Regions from separate parts of the Homo sapiens genome. Here region 1 is linked to region 2. Evidence: fine-mapped expression QTL. A gene starts in region 2. The other region holds a variant in brackets. All regions are shown on one strand. Distances are from middle to middle. Region 1 overlaps AMBRA1 (autophagy and beclin 1 regulator 1). Region 2 holds the start of DGKZ (diacylglycerol kinase zeta).

What was found. PIP is the estimated chance that this variant, and not a neighbour inherited with it, causes the effect. A credible set is the group of variants that fine-mapping cannot tell apart.
Region 1: its variant is the best candidate, but not a certain one, in a credible set for the expression of DGKZ in whole blood (TOPMed, PIP 0.78).

Annotation. Positions count from the first base shown.
Region 1 is chr11:46,467,780-46,476,109 of GRCh38, reverse strand. All of the region lies in intron 11 of AMBRA1 (autophagy and beclin 1 regulator 1), which reads left to right. Among named protein-coding and RNA genes, the nearest start is that of MIR3160-1, 20 kb to the right of the region's middle. The variant G/C (reference allele first, on the strand shown) is at 3,518.
Region 2 is chr11:46,344,125-46,352,454 of GRCh38, reverse strand. DGKZ (diacylglycerol kinase zeta) reads right to left here and starts at 4,992. Exons shown (of 31, transcript NM_001199267.2): 1 at 4,635-4,992. The coding sequence starts at 4,795. RefSeq lists enhancers at 202-271, 1-669, 3,181-4,166, 6,070-6,119, 6,190-6,259 and 2 more and silencers at 3,684-3,843, 4,480-4,693, 4,656-4,705, 4,806-5,285.

The DNA.
Region 1 (8,330 bases), 120 kb before region 2:
TTTGGTTTGTGTGGACTCATCAGTCATTGTTTTCAGGCACTGAGTGCAGCTCTCCACCTTTTCCTTTGTGATATTAGTGTCTCCCCTATATGGAAGAGTGACCATTTTCTGAAAGGCTAATGCAGCTATGGAGGGGAACAGTGTTCTTTTCCGACACCTGGAGAATAGCTGTTAGGGTTTAGAATTCCTGAAAAAAATCATTTTAGTCTTGATATTTTAGTATATCCTTTATTTGAAGCTGCCTGCTTTCTTTGCCTTCTTTCTTGTGAATGCCACAGTTTCCTGTTCCACCTTTCTCCGAATCTGAGACCTTACAGTAAAAAAGAAGTATGCGACAAGAAATTACGGGATTCTCGTATCCAGAGCAAAGTGATGATGGTTGCAAGTTGACTATTTGACATTTTACAGTTTTATATGACTCATAACTTTTGTGTGGGGAGCATAACTGAAACAAATTATCAAACTGGGAATGGCCTCAGGGGCTCTGTCTCTGAAGGAAAGGGTTGGAATTTTGAGTCCTTGGGCCTTCTGAATTTGACAAATTGAATTATCCTAGGATTCCTCTGTCTCTCATTTTCATTTTTCATTGGATAGTCTGTGATGGGAGGGGATTTTTGTATACAGAGAAATAGACTCAATCAAAGAATACAGCAAACTAATACATGTGGAATTAAGGTCCAGTCTACCCCCTCAAAGAAATGTATGCTTGTCTGTTCCTTTTCCAACCTGGAACCTGGACATTAAACTGTTGAATATTTTGTCTATCTTCCCTTTTGGCTTTGATGTTCTTAAACGTTGAACGTTAGCAAATGTCATGGAGACACACCCATAACTACTTTCTTGTAAGGAAACCAAGGACTTGAATTCTTCTCTTATTCATAATTAATACTTTGCATTCCAAGTTATAGGTAGCACTGGGCGCTGGAGGCTGCCTGCCAGATAGGCTGACTAGGGTTTGAAGTTAGTTGGGTTGCTATTCTACTTTGCAGAAGAACCTAAAATACTTTAATTTTTTTTCTATTGATAAGACTGTTTTTCAGTTTAAGATATATTCAATTCACCTCACTCATTTTCTCCTCTCATCTCCTCTCCAAGTACTCAGGTTGATCCTATGGGAACATAATGTCATCCTCCTCATGTTATACATATATGCGGACTTTGTCAGGCTGAGCCTTAAAATGTCCATTTCTCAAGCGCACACTGTGTTCTTTCTCTTTCGACTATCTTGCTTTTTGTTTTTTTTCACTGTTCTGGCTCTGATATGGGTTAGCTGCCCTCAGTGAACCAGTACTGTATTTCTTTCCTTGAACTTAACTTTACCTGCTAGCCATAGGGAAAATCCAGAATGAGTACTAATCCTTTCTGGATTTCCCCCTCTGTCCAACAGACAGTATAGTATAGATGCTTAAGAACAAGGGTAGAGGCCAGGTGCCGTGGCTTACGCTTGTAATCCCAGCACTTTGGGAGGCCGAGGTGGGTGGATCACCTGAGGTCTGGAGTTCAAGACCAGCCTGGCCAACATTGTGAAACCCCGACTCTACTAAAAATACGAAGTCAGCCAGGCGTGGTGTCACGTGCCTGTAGTCCCAGCTACTCGGGAGGCTGAGGCAGGAGAATCGCTTGAACCTGGGAGGTGGAGGTTGCAGTGAGCCGAGATTGTACCACTGCACTCCAGCCTGGGCGACAGAGCAAGACTCTGTCTCAAAAAATAGAACAAGGTTAGAAATTGGGCCTCTGTTTATGTTGAGAAGTATATGAATAGACCTGTTCGTATTGATCATATACCTGATAATAATTAATTTATTTATTCCCTTATTCATTTGAAAGTATTTTCCTCCGGTGGTTCTAATATTTACTAACTTAATAATGAAATTAATCAACCAGGAAAAATATCAAACTGACTGATTTTACCACCACATTTATTGCTACTCTTTTTTTTTTTTCTTCCTAAATCAGGGCAGCACCCTGAACCAGTAAAAGTTCAGGGATCTCCTCATTGCTATTCTAAGGAGTAATATAGTCCTATTTTCAAGTTTGTGTGTATTCATTGGAATATACTTCTTGAGTGCTACTATGTGCTAGGTAGGTCCTACACTAAGTGTTGGGAATTTTTAACAGGAAAAATTAAGTTACCTTCTTTAAGAATCCTTAAAGGATCCTGTCCGGGTGCGGTGGCTCACGCCTGTAATCCCAGCACTTTGGGAAGCTGAGGCGGGCCGATCACAAGGTCAGGAGATCGAGACCATCGTGGCTAACACGGTGAAACACCGTCTCCACTAAAAATACAAAAAGTTAGCCGGGCGTGGTGGTGGGTGTCCGTAGTGCCAGCTACTTGGGAGGCTGAGGCAGGAGAATGGTGTGAACCCGCGAGGCGGAGCTTGCAGTGAGCTGAGATCACACCACTGCACTCAGCCTGGGCGACAGTGCGAGACTCCGTCTCAAAAACAAACAAACAAAAAAAGAATCCTTAAAGGATCCATTATTTTTCTGCCTTTTCAATACTTATTATTGCTATTCTACCTCCAGAAATCCTGGATTTTTTCTGATTCTTTATCACTGATCATTATATCACTCTGTGACAGTTTCCCCCACAAGTAACAGGAAGAATTAACTTTGTTTTATGTTAGGGCTTTATCCAAAGATGTCAATACAATACTCATCCTATCAGAGAAATGTGTTACAAAAATGCAAGTTATCACCCTCTCTACTTTTCTCTGTGTCACTTAAACACACCTAAAGTTCCTGGCACTCAAACCAGATGTACACAGGCTTCTTTTCCTCAGAAAGCTTTTTTGGGGTATTGCAGTGTCTTTCCAGCTTTAGCTTCCTTTGATGAGGTCAGTTGTCTCTTCCTGGCTATCACAGAGGCTGTCATGCTGACATGATACAGGAGGATGTAGTCTTTAATGAGTGCCTTTGGCACTACTTGTCAATTGCTTATTTTCCAGTGACGTTGCATTAAAGTATTAATTAACCACTAAATTCAAGTTGACCTCTTAATTGAGGAGGCTTTGCTTTCCTGAAGGCAGGCAGACTGACTTTCCTAACATGATCTAGCACTCTTGTATGCCAATAAGTTTTGATCAGTGTGTAAAATATACCTTTACTAAAACTGTTACTGTAATATCAGGTTGATTTGAGGTTGAGGAAGTCACACTGTGTTCTAGAGTGGGATTTATAAGTTGGTATGAGCAAGAGGTAAGGGACTGGTACCAAAGAGCAAGCCTGTGTTTCCTGGAGCATGTGTGGAGTTTGCCTGGTGAGCAGGTGACAGGGCAGGGAGAACAGCTCTGCTCAGTGACTCAGTGACATAGTTCCGAAGGCCACCAGATAAGGACTAGGAGACATTGTCTTACTGTAAGTGATTTGTGTTTTTATTATTGCTGACTTTACTGTTCTCTGAGTCTTTTGATTCCTTCAAATTGCTAAGAAATCTAGTATTCAAATGTATGTTGTGAACACAAAAAGATTGAGAACTACTGATCTTGTGTTTTAGAAAATAAACTAGAAGTTGACA[G/C]GTTGTTCTCCTGACTCCTTCAGTAATTCTCTATACAATTTGAGTGAGTCATTTAACCTCTGTCCACTTGACAGGTGAGGGTGTGGTACTTACCGCTATGTTCCTTCCAGAATTTAAGTAGGAAAAATTGGTAAAGTGCTCTAACTTCATTTGAAAAAGATATTATCTGTAGTCCAAAGGAAGAAAATTAAATATATGTCCTAGCACCCAGGTTATTTGCGGTAGCTGAACTACTTGAGACAAGCTGGGACTGCCAACTTTAGATGTTCCAGTGACAAGAACACCTCAATGCTAAGAGACAGGCTCAGGTGGCTGAAAAGGATCCATCTCAGTTTAATAAAAGGAGTTGCCAAAGAACATCTGAGTTGTGCTAGGCACCCTTGGGACATAAAATAAATACTTCTTGTTGAACTAAATAGAAGCGGTCACAGCAGCAGTAAGGAGGAGGTAAGACTTGTCCAGGATTTGCACAGAATCTTTTCATAGGCTGAATGTTGCTCCACAATGTGTCCTTTGACTATCTCTGGCTAATTATTATTTTAATCTCTTCTCAGCTTTTCCAAGAACATAACGTTAACCAAAGATCTTAGGCCATTCACAACTCTTTTGTAAAAATTAATGTGGATGTGAAACGAGGCAACAAATCCTGAAGTAGAAAGTTATTCCTGGCCAGGCACGGTGGCTCACGCCTGTAATCCTGGCACTTTGGGAGGCCGAGGTGGGTGGATCATGAGGACAGGAGATCGAGACCATCCTGGCCAACATGATGAAACCCCATCTCTACTAAAATACAAAAAATTAGCTGGGCATGGTGACGCGTGCCTGTAGTCCCAGTTACTCAGGAGGCTGAGGCAGGGGAATTGCTTGAACCTCGGAGGTGGAGGTTGCAGTGTGCCGAGATCACGCTACTGCACTCCAGCCTGGCAACAGAGCAAGACTCCATCTAAAAAAAAAACAAAACAAAACAGAAAGAAAGTTATTTCTTAACCCTTTTGGGGGAAATGCCAAAATACTCTTAAAGGAATATTACTCTGTTGCCCAGGCTGGAGTGCAGTGGGGCGATCTCGGCTCACTGCAACCTCCATCTCCCAGGTTTACCCCATTCTCCTGCTTCAGCCTCTCGAGTAGCTGGGACTGCAGGCGCCCGCCACCATGCCCAGCTAATTTTTTGTATTTTTAGTAGAGATGGGGTTTCACCGTGTTAGCTAGGGTGGTCTCGATCTCCTGACCTTGTGATCCTCCTGCCTCGGCCTCCCAAAGTGCTGGGATTACAGGTATGAGCCACCGTGCCCAGACGAATTTTTATATTTTTTAGCAGAGGTGGGGTTTTGCCATGTTGGCCAGGCTGGTCTTAAACTCCTGATTTCAAGTGATCCGCCCGCCCGAGCCTCCCAAAGTGCTGGGATTACAGGCATGAGCCACTGCATCTGGCGTGAATTCAAATTTCGTCTAAACTCTTGGTAACCTGGAGACCATGGGCAAATGGTTTATCTTGATCTGAGCCTCAATTTCCTCCTCATCTATTAGATAGGGATTCAGTAAATTCTTTCAGCAACTACCCTATCAGAAATCGCCATGCAACATTTTCCATGCCTCTTCCCTGTTTTATATTTCTCCATGGATCTTACCATAATTTAACATACTATATGGTGAACTTATTAGTTCTTTCTCCTCCTCCCTCTAGAATGTAATTTCCATGAAGGTGGGAATTTTTGTCTGTTTTATTCATTGTCTGGCATGTAGTAGATACTCAAATATTTGTCTGATGAGTAAACAAACTTCCTTTAGGGTGGTTGTGAAGATAGAATGGGAGCTTTTTATTTTATTTTTTTGAGACAGTCTCACCTTGTCACCCAGGCTGGAGTATGGTGGTGCAGACATGGCTCACTGCAAGCACCCAACTCCTGGGCTCAAGCAATCCTCTCACTTTAGCCTTCTGAGTAGCTAGGACCGCAGGCCCATGGTGCCACACCTGGCTAATTTTTTTTTTTTTTTTTTTTTTTTGAGACGGAGTCTCACTCTGTCGCCCAGGCTGGAGTGCAGTGGCGCCATCTCGGCTCACTGCAAGCTCTGCCTCCCGGGTTCACGCCATTCTCCTGCCTCAGCCTCCTCAGTAGCTGGGACTACAGGCACCCACCACCACGCCCGGCTAATTTTTTGTATTTTTAGTAGAGATAGGGTTTCACCGTGTTAGCCAGGATTGGTCTCGATCTCCTGACCTCGTGATCCGCCCGTCTCGGACTCCCAAAGTGCTGGGATTATAGGCGTGAGCCACCGCGCCCGGCCAACCTGGCTGATTTTTTAAAAAATTTTTTGTAGATATGGGGTCTCCCTATGTTGCTCAGGCTGGTCTTGAACTCCTGGCTCAAGTGATCCTCCCAGCTTGGCCTCCAAAGTGCTCGGGTTATAGGCATGAGCCATGGTGTCCAGTCTTGAATGAAAGCTTTTAGAGCACTTATTTTGGCACTTGGCATGTTTTCTTTAGCTCTAAGGAAGATAATACAAGTCTTATTTATATAACTGATTAATGTATAAAGTATCTTGCTACACAATGCTTAGTTATATCAGAATGCAAGTATGGATATTAGATTATTGTAAATTTTTAAAATGAAATAGGCTGGGCACAGTGGCTCATTCCTGTAATGCCAGCACTTGGGGAAGCCAAGTTAGGAGGATTGCCCGAGGCCAGGAGTTCGAGACCAGTCTGGGCAACATAGTGAGACCATATCTCTACCAAAAAAAAAAAAAAAAAAAGTTTAAGTTAGCTGGGCATGGTAGTTTGGGCCTGTAATCCTAGCTACTCAGAAGGTTGAGACAGGAGGATTGCTTGAGCCCAGGAGTTCGAGGCTGCAGTGAGCAATGATCGTACCACTGCACTCCACCCTGGGGCAACAGAGTGAGATCCTATCTCTAAAAAAAGAGAAAAAGAAAGAAATATATGTTGCTAAGTCTTATTCTTAGATTCATTTTACTCTGAAGATAACATATTTAAATTGTGCCTAGTTTATAGTATTTTCATTGTACATATTTTCATATAATGTACATATTTTCATACAGTTTTCATATATATTACACATATAATAGGTGTACATATTTTCTGTCTCCTTCAAGATTGTCAGTTCTCTCAAGTTAGGAACCATACCTTTTTTTCATAGTTGCTGTCCCCAATGTTTCTTTTACAGTCTGTTGTAATCTAAGGATTCTATTTCTTTTTTTTAACTCCTTACTATCATTCCCAAGGTACTCTGTTTCTAAAACATTCAGAGAAATAAAAAATTCTGTTATAAAAACAATGATTTCATTTTGGAGGAAGGGAAGATTAGGAGCTGGAGAGTTCAGCATAAAACACATTTTACCATATTCAATGAAAATACGTTAGATATAGATATAACTGTAAAGCCTAAACTAACTAAATCTAATATTTTATTACATCTTCTTTTTCTTTTTTTGAGGTGGAGTTTCCCTGTTGTCACGCAGGCTGGAGTTCAGTGGCGTGATTTCGGCTCACTGCAACCTCCGCCTCCCAGGTTCAAGTGATTCTCCTGCCTCAGCCTCTTGAGGAGCTGGGATTACAGGCATAGACCACCACACCCAGCTAATTTTGTATGTTTAGTAGAGACGGGGTTTTGCCATGTTGGTCAGGCTGGTCTCGAATTCCTGACTTCAGGTGATCCACCTGCCTTGGCCTCCTGAAGTGCTGGGATTACAGGCTTGAGCCACTGTGTCTGGCCTTCCTCCTTTTCTTTCTCTCTTTTTCTTTTTTCTTTTTTTTTTTTTTGAGACGGAGCCTCACTCTGTTGCCGCCCAGGCTGGAGTGCAGTGGTGTGATCTCGGCTCACTGCAAGCTCCGCCTCCCAGGTTCACGCCATTCTCCTGCCTCAGCCTCCTGAGTAACGGGGACTACAGGCGCCCGCCACCACACCCGGCTATTTTTTTTTTTGTATTTTTTTGTATTTTTAGTAGAGACGGGGTTTCACGGTGTTAGCTAGGATGGTCTCGATCTCCTGACCTTGTGATGCACCCACCTCAGCCTCCCAAAGTGCTGGGATTACAGGCGTGAGTCACTGCGCCTGGCCCTGGCCTTCCTTTTCTTTAAGAGTGATGCTTGTGCTACTAGGAGGCTGAGGTGGGAGGATTCCATAAGCCCAGGAGTTCAGAGTTACATTGAGCCAAGGGTAATGCTTGGGCCTCCTTCCTCTTCTTTTTTCTTTTTTTTCAAGAGATGAGGTCTCACTATATTGCCCAGGCTGTTCTCAAACTCCTGGACTCAAGCCATCCTCCTGCCTTGGCACCTCCTAAGGTGCTTGGGACTACCAGTGTGAGCCACCATGCTGCCCGCCACCCCTCCCCACTTTTTTTTGTATTAGTGATTGGTCCCACCACGCACTGCTTGCTGCATATTCTTTATCATCTATTGTTCTTATAATTCACAGAACCACTCAAAGAAGGCAGCTGTTGTTTGGCCATTTCTTCATTCAACAAATGTGTGAGGGTTTCCAATATACCTGTCACCATCCTATGCCCTGGAAGAATAGCAACCATGTTTTCCTAAGTAAACTGAAGATTCCAGGATCTCTTCTCACTATTCTAGCCCTGATTGAGGCCATTATGCTTTCGTAGCAGTTTCCTGCCTGGTTGTTCCCTGCTTATAATCTTCCCATGCCAGAAATACTTGCCAGTATGTGGCCCTAGACTTCTGGTAAACATGAAAGAATGAACATGTGTGTTTATCTCCACTCTCTCCCAGATCTCTTCTAAATTAACAGTAAAAGGGCCAGGTGCAGTGGCTCACACCTATAATCCCAGCACTTTG
Region 2 (8,330 bases):
GCCTGCCCTGGGCCGCACTGATTGGCTCCGCCCGGCAGCTAGAGCTGCAGGTAACTTCCAGCGAGTGCCTGTGGGTCCCCGTGGGCCTGTGGACTGGCGGAAGGAGAAGCTCCTCGCCCACCGGCCTCCCACAACGGCAGCTGTCGCCCCCTTGTGTCGCTCCAGAGGCACTGCAGGGCAGCCTCCAGGGGCTGCTTCCACACCTCCCAATTCTCTCCTGCCTTAAAGTGGGTGGAAGGGCTCCGGATCCCTGCTTCTCCGAGGGGCCCGCGCGGCCTAAGACTCAGGGCTAACCTATGACTCCACTTTCACCTCTGCCCCGGGGGGGCCACTGGCGAATTCTGGAGAGGCCTCCAGGGAGCCGAGGAGGGCAGGCCCGTTTCTCTCACTCTCCCCCAGCCCAGCTGCCTGGAGCCTCAGCTTTCTCTCACCAGGGGTCACTTAGTCCTTCCTCTGTCCTTGCCTGAGGGGACACCAACTCTCAAGCTCCTGTGCCAACCGAGAATCCTGGGCAGCTCCACATCCCAGGATCTGACCTTTTTGGAGTATGGCATGGAGACAAAATGACAAGAATTGTCATTCCCTCCCCTGACAGCGTTTGGCACAGAGGGAGACTGTGAGAATTCTACACTGGGTTCCCAGCAGGGGCCAGCTGTATACTCTGGCACCTGACCTTGTGTGGGGAGCAAACACAGTGAGATGAACGCAGCTCGGCCACTGAGGCCCATTTTTCTTTCCCAAACTTGCTGGAACCCAAGGATTCTAGGTTGTCCCTGCCTCTCACAGCAACCTGGGCTGCTCCCAGCATTAGCCCAGGTGAGACAAACCACTCAAAGAGGTTTCCTTTCGCTCCCAGACACCCTGGCACCATAGACAGGGTTCTCACCTCTGCAAAAGAGGCGTCCCTCAACACGTCCCTCCCTATTCATTGCAGAACCAACTCAAACAGGGGCTGCTTCTGCTCAGGCACCCGCTGGGCACCCTCTGCAGCCCTGACTTCAGGGCCATGCTCGCTGGGGCCGTGTGGCAGTGCCTCTAAATGGGACCCATTGTCTCACACTGGTTCTGCAGGTGTGCCTCCTGCCCTCTGGGAGCTTGTGACTTTGAGCACCGTGAAGGGCAGGGGATGGCGGCACAGACGCTCAGGCTCCTAGGGGCTCTGAGGCCAAGGCTCCTTATGTCTACATGTGTGAGGTGCCAGGTAATTTCTGATGCCCCTGGGGTGTAAAACCAGCTAATCCAGAAGCCCTGTGACCTGCCAGGATCAGGCTGCTGAGACCAGGCCAGAGGATAAGCGGGTCCTCCTTCCCGGTGGGTCCTGGAGGAGGAGAGAGAGTCCACTTCTCTCCCACTCCTGGCTGCCCAATCCTTAGGGTCAACAGAAGCTTAAATGGAAAGGTCCTGCCTGCCCTCTGCTCAGGGTAGAGGAAAACTAAATACCCTGGGATCAGAGTAGGGGCCTGTACCTCCTCTCCTCCTCCTCCTCCTCAGGGAGGAGACTGATAGTTCCGGCAAGAAGTAAGGTGGGATGCAGTTGGGGTGGGAGGAATCCACAAGCTGGGGAGAATCATGGCTCACTGAGCTAAAAAAAAAAAAAAAGGGAGATGGCAAGCTGCCACCCCCCGATTCTGAGAGGATGACGCCAGTTGTGTGGGGCAGAGATGGACTTTAAGGAAAAGCCTCTTTCAGCCCCACAGGGGCTGCCATTCAGAGACTGTCCTACCCAGAGGGGCCAGGATGGCAAACATGTGGCCCATGTGCCATCAAGACCCCCTGCCAAGCCCACAGCAGACACTGCTAATTGTTCATGGAACTCTCCCCATGAGCCAGGGCCCGCATGCAGAATTCTCCACCTGGCTTCAGCAGCCACTGCCAACCTAGTTGTTACCCTTGATCTTCCCGTCGGGCCCCTCAACCCCAAGGCTGGATGTGTGTATGTGGGTGGGGTGGGGAGGGGGCGGGATGGGGGACATGGGGTGGATGACTGGGGAGAAGCAAGAGCTAGGTTAAGAGCTAGCATGGAGCTGGGATAAGATGAAGGGCTGGTTTCAGCTGGGGCTTCGAGGACTTTTACCTGAGGCTGCAACAAACAAACAAAGGTAGCAGGACCAGCCAAGCAGCATTGGAGGGGGCAGAACCCAGAGCAGGTGTACTATTCCACCCTTCCACATGTCTGCCCCCAGCACCCACCCCTTGGCCCCATCAAGTCAAAGGGAAGGAGGCCAGCCCCAGTGAGCTCCCAGGCCTGCCAGGAGAAAGTGCTTTCCCTTGCTGCTCTCTGCCTGATACTACTGGGTTCTCTGAATGTATTCATTTCTGAAGGCCCCACTATCCCCAGCACAGTGCTCCCAAACAAAGGACACTCCTTACATGCTTCCAGAGGTGCTGCTGAATTTTCTTTCCTCTCATCAGGCATCCTATAAGAGCACTTACACTCCCCAGCGTGACGGACTACTGTGCTTCTCAAACTTGATGGGACATGAGAATCACCTGGGAAGCTTCAAACAATGCCCAGGCCCCACCTCCAGACCTGATGGGTCAGACACGCCAAGGGAAGATCTAGGAATCTGTATTTCTTAAAGCTCCCTTGGCCATTGTGATGTTCCGTTTGGGATCCTGGTATAGAGAAAGGGATGTGGATTTTGGAATCACACCAACTTGACTTCAAACCTTATCTCTACCTCTTCCTTGCTATGTGACTCTGAGCAAATCCCCTCTGACTGTGTTTCTTTCATCTATAAAAATGGAGAAACAGGCCAGGTGTGGTGGCTCACACCTATAATCCCAGCACTTTGGGAGTCCGAGGTGGGAGGACTGCTTGAGGTCAGGAATTCAAGACCAGGCTGGGCAATGCTGTGTGAGATCTCATCTCTACAAAAAATTGGTTTTTTTTTGTTTTACAAAAGGAAGAATACCACCTACCCTGCTTATTTTAGAGAATTACATAAAGGTATCTGTTGGTTCTCTGGTTTCTTGTTCTTCCTCCCGAATGTGCTCATCCCTATACCCACAAACCTGTGCCCTTCAGAAGGGGCACAGCCACAGGTCAGAAGAACCCAACACTTGATACCCTGTGGGCAGCAACAGGAAGCCTCTGGTGGCGCCCCTCCCTCCCCCTGCGGAGCCTGTGAATACTGGAGGCTACATCCTGCAGAGCTGGGTGTAAACTGCTCCATCTTGCAGGGCTGTGGGTGACAAAACAGAGCTACTGGAAGTTTCACTCCCTGCTCTGTTTTATATGACATTGAAGCCTGCGTGGTAACACAGGAGCCCACGGAGCTCCATCTGCCAGTGTAAGAATTCAGATCTGTGCATGTGCTCAGAGACAGAGTGCAGGTGCAAAGAGTGGGCCCTAGCCCGGGTGAGACGGGTAGAGGGCACAAGTCAGCATCACGGGTATGCTAGCCCACACGACAGGAGAAAACCGCCCATGTTATTGGTGGGTAAAGTCTACCCAGGGAAGGGGCAGAGCAAAGCTAAGGGGCGGGGTGGGGGTGAATGCCACCAAGTCTAGGCAGCTGCAGAAAAGTGAGAGGGAGGCCTTGGGCAGACTCCAAGTGGTCAGAGTTCAGTCTGAGGTGGCTCTGGGGTCCTTGGCTGATTGGCTACAAGCTCCTTGGCCACCAGGGAAGGGCAAGGCTCGGTCAGGAAGAAGCGCAGGGAGCCAGGTCAGGTACTCCTGGGGCCTCACGTCCCTTACCTTACACCACGGCTACCAGGGCAGGCAGCGGCTCACGACCAAGAGCAGCACACTTGCCATGAACTGCCTGCACTCAGTCTTTCCACACTCTCCCCCCGGTTCCCCGCTAGAGTCCTGGTCAAAGCTCTGTCACAGGCACAAGATGGTGACATTTGGAGTGCTGGGGGAGGGGGCAAGATGAAGCTTGAACAGCCAGCAGATTCCAGACTCCAGCCCACCCCATCCCTTTCCCAGCATGGGCTGGAAGAGGGTAGAGGGAGACATGCTGCCTGCCTAGCAGAGGGATGGGCTGGGGTCTCTCTGCTAATTAAGAGCAAGGTAGGGCAGATGATCAGGCACCCCCAACCCCAAGGAGAAGCTTAACATGTTAAACAATTAAACCAGTGACCAGAGCTTGGGGACAAGCCATGTGTGGTGACGGTATCAACGGGGCTACGTTCTGCAGATGCCACGCAGTGATGGTAGGCAACCTGGTCCCACGAAAGTCCAAAGGGCGGTGTGATCCCCACCTCAGTGGTGCCAGGAGGCTCAGAGAGGCCCTGTTCTATCAGTGCCAAGAAGGCGTGGGTGACCAGTCCTGGGGGCCCAACCTGCTTGTGCCGGGGGCTGGGGTGATTCCATCTTCCTGCTGGAGGGTTGGGAGCCGATCCTCCCACGGTACTACACATGAGGCGCACTAGACTGCCGGTGCCAGGGAATGACCCCCACCCGGTGACAGTGCCAAGCCGACCGATCCCGCCCGTGTCCCGGCCCTGGGGGATGACTCCCAGTGGGTGCCCACGCCAAGACGGCTCGTGCCGCCGGTGCCAGCCTCTCCCCGACTCAGTGTCAGTACCGAAGTGGCCCGGACCCCCAGTGGCCGAGGAATGTCCCCCGGTGAGGGAGCGGTAACCTGCCGGTGCCTCGGTGCCTGCCCCGCCGCCGCCCCGCTCACCTGTGCCCGAAGAGCCGCAGCCCCGGGAAGCGCCGCTTGTTGAGTCGCCGCGGCGCCTTGTCCGGCTCGGGACCGGCGTCGCGCTCGGAGCCGCTGGACGAGGCGGAAGCCGACTCGGAGTCGCTGCTCCGGGCCTCGGGGCTACCGTCCCGCGGCTCCATCCGGCCCTAGCCCCGGCCGGCGGAGGGCCCGCGGGAGACGCCCATGCCGGGCCGGCGGCCGGGGCTCAGCACGCCCGCTCCGCGCCGCCCGCCACCTCCATGGCGCGCGCTCGCTCCGCCCGCCCCGCGCCGCGCGCCCCCGCTCCCCACGCCCAGGTGCCCGGGAAGCCGCTGCCGCCGCCGCTCCAGGAAGTGCCGCCAGCCGCGGCCGCAGGACCCCGCATAGCTGGCCGGGCCGCTGCCTGCCCGCCGCCGAGCACGCCCCCTCGGCCGCACGGTGGCACCGGGCCCGCAGCGCCCTCTGCCGGACGCCCGCTGCGCTGCAGCCCGCTGGGGCGGTCCGAGGGGCGGGGCGACGAATGGGCGGGGCAGCAGAAAGCCCTGCCCCCAGCCCGGCCCGGCCCGCCTGGATGGGACTGAATCTCCCGGCCTGGCACACTCGCACTGCGCGCATCCAGACGCGCATCTTTCCTCCCCCGATCCCTCCGCTACCAAACAACTGCACGCTCACAAGTGTACACTCGCGAGGGCTGCTGTCACCACCTCCCCTCCGCTCTCGCACACCCTACTCATAGCCACTCACAATCTCCACCCATACCTCCTTGGCTCCCCCAAATCGCACCCAGGGGAACAAAAGTCACACAGTGCTCCCCATGCACGCAGAACAAACACATCCCTTACACAATTATGCCCACTCATTACTTAAACGAACACTTCCCACCCCAGCCTCTCGCACTCAGTGACCAAAGTCACTTAATGACTCGCACACACACCAACAAAGAACTCACAAGTTTCTCCTACAAAGTCATCCTTCCACAGCTATTCACAATGGTTTCCAACCTTCTCACCCAGGCCCAACACATCGCATTTTCCTGACATAGTATTCAACAGAACCTATAGATCTCATATGCTACGGGAATCACCTGCACAGCCCTTACACACTCACAAATACACAGAAGGACAACAGGTACCACACTCCCATTCACAAGCACACATGCCCACACAGAACACACACCTTTCTCCTACATACAAATACTCCCAGGACAATGGTTACCGGTTGCCACATCCCTCACACATATGTATGTGTGTGCATATGCACACACTCCCATCCAGAAATATACCTCACATGCACACACAAAGACACCCCACAATGCAGCCGAGGCCGTCCCCCTCCAGAAATGAGAGCAATTGGAACCCAAGCAGTCACCTGTAGGGGCACAGCCATCACACACACCGGGGCTGTTTCTGATGGCCCCCGCAGGGCTGACGAAGGGAGGCCAGGAGCTGGGAAGCATGGTCTTCCACCTCCCCAAACCCTACCACCCTGCTGCCCACACCAGCTGCCCACTACTTCTGTGTGCACGCCTCTCTGCCAAGCCACATCCTGTGTCACCTTCGCTTTCATCCTCCCCTCTTGGGTTCTGGCAGCCCGTTTTCCAGCCTTAGTCAGCCGCAAATAGCCAATGCTTAGGGCTGTGACCTGCGGACAAGCCTGTGATTTTGAGGAAGAACCAGCACCCCGAGGCCCAGAACCCTCTCCCAGTTTCCTGCAAGTTGGGAGAAGGTCTGATCAGGGAGGTGGGGCTCCAGCCCTCCAGCCAGCAGCTGGTGCCAGGGTGGCCAGGAGGAGGGCAGATCAATCCCCAAGTATGCCTGACAACTGGCCTCTGGGGTGCATGGGTCCTTTTGGGGAAGTTTCCCAATGGCTCTTACTCCAAGCTCTGAGAGAAGAGATCAGAGGCAACTGAAGACCCCACGGAGTCTCCACAAGGCCTTGCAGCTGGGTCAGAAATCTCCAGCATCCAGTGCCACACTCCTGGGGGGGCTCCTCTTCCCAGATCCCCCCACTGCTAGCTTGCTCAACTCCTGGCCTCTCTCGAGCTCAGTTCCTCCACACAGTCCAAACATCAGAGCTCCCTGCACCCTGCCAATAACTCCTTTGCCCTACTCTGTGCCTCTGCAGAGTGCTGGATGACAGATGGGTGACCCTACTTCTGTCACCCCCATCTCAGATAAAAGGCTCATAGAGGGACAGAGGTCCCATGCCCACTCCCAGGCCACCCCTTGTACCTACTGTGTCTGGGGTGCCTCTGATGGGATCTGTGGCACGTCCCAGGAGCGGTAGCGCCACATCTGCCTCAGTGACCCCGGCCGCTCCCCTTCTTCCGTCCCCAGCGCCTCCACTGGGCCCAGAGCTGAGGATTCATTGCAGCTTCCCCCGGCACTGTGGCCAGCCCCCGGTGCGCTCATCCTGCCCGGCGACTCTCTTCCTCTTTCGGCACTTCCTGACGGGGGTGGGGTCGAGGGGGGGGCCTGCTAGAGGCCGCTGGCCGCCCAAGCTGAGGACCACAGGCTCAGGGCTCATAGGCGCCTTCCGCTGGCTGGGGCCAGCTGCCGTGAAGAGCTGCACAAGAAAGCAAGGGGCAGGTGGGGACAAGCCCAGACCAGCAGCCAGGAGGCAGCCATGGGGCTTGCTTGGGCTGGAATCTGCACCTGGGCTCCTGTCTGGTTTTCCTCTCCATTTAAACTGTCTGATTTTCAACTCTTGGTCCTGCTGAGGTCTCCCGCTTTATGACAACCACCAGGTACAATGGCTGGGTGTGCCCAGCCCTCAAAGAGCGCTCTCTTCCTAGCACTTCTGTGTGCAGCATACCATCTTACACAGGGCTGGGCATACAGGAAGGTGGTGTAGAGAAATGAGCAATGAGGATGGAGCCTGGAGACATGAGCATGTGTCCTGTTCTGCCTCTTACCAGCTCTGTGTGGCCTGGATCAGGTCATAAACCTCTCGGAGTCCTCTAAATAACTTTTGGGACAAGGTAGCCTATAAACAAATAAACTAATGAATACATGTGCCAGGGAGATTTTCTGAGCCTCAGTTTTCTCATCTGTAAAGTGGAGTAATAGGCCAGGCATGGTGGCTCACACCTGTAATCCCAACACTTTGGGAGGCCGAGGTGGGCAGATCACCTGAGCTCAGGAGTTTGAGACCAGTCTGGCCAACATGGTGAAACCCCATTTCTACTAAAAATACAAAAATTAGCCCGGCGTGGTGGCAGGTGCCTGTAATCACAGCTACTTGGGAGGCTGAGGCAGGAGAATCGCTTGAACCTGGGAGGTGGAGGTTGTGATGAGCCGAGTTCGCGCCACTGCACTCCAGCCTGGGTGACAAGAGTGAGACACTGTCTCCAAAAAAAAAAAAAAAAAATTGAGCTCATGGTGTTATCTGAGGAATAAAGAAGAGATAGGAAGGTTGACAAATTAATTCATTCAATAAATACTTATTGAATGCCTTCTGTGCATCAGGCACCGTATCGGAGAACATAGCTCTAAAAACAAGGAAGCAGGGCTCTGTCCTCACAGAGCTTAGATTCTAGTGGGGAAGACATTCAGGAAACAAACAATCTATGTACAATATAATGTCAGCAAACAAGATGTGCCATAAAGATTGGGAGGCTGAGGCTGGTGGGTTACTTGAGGTCAGGAGTTTGAGACTAGCCTGGCCAACATGGTGAAACCCCCTGTCTACTAAAAG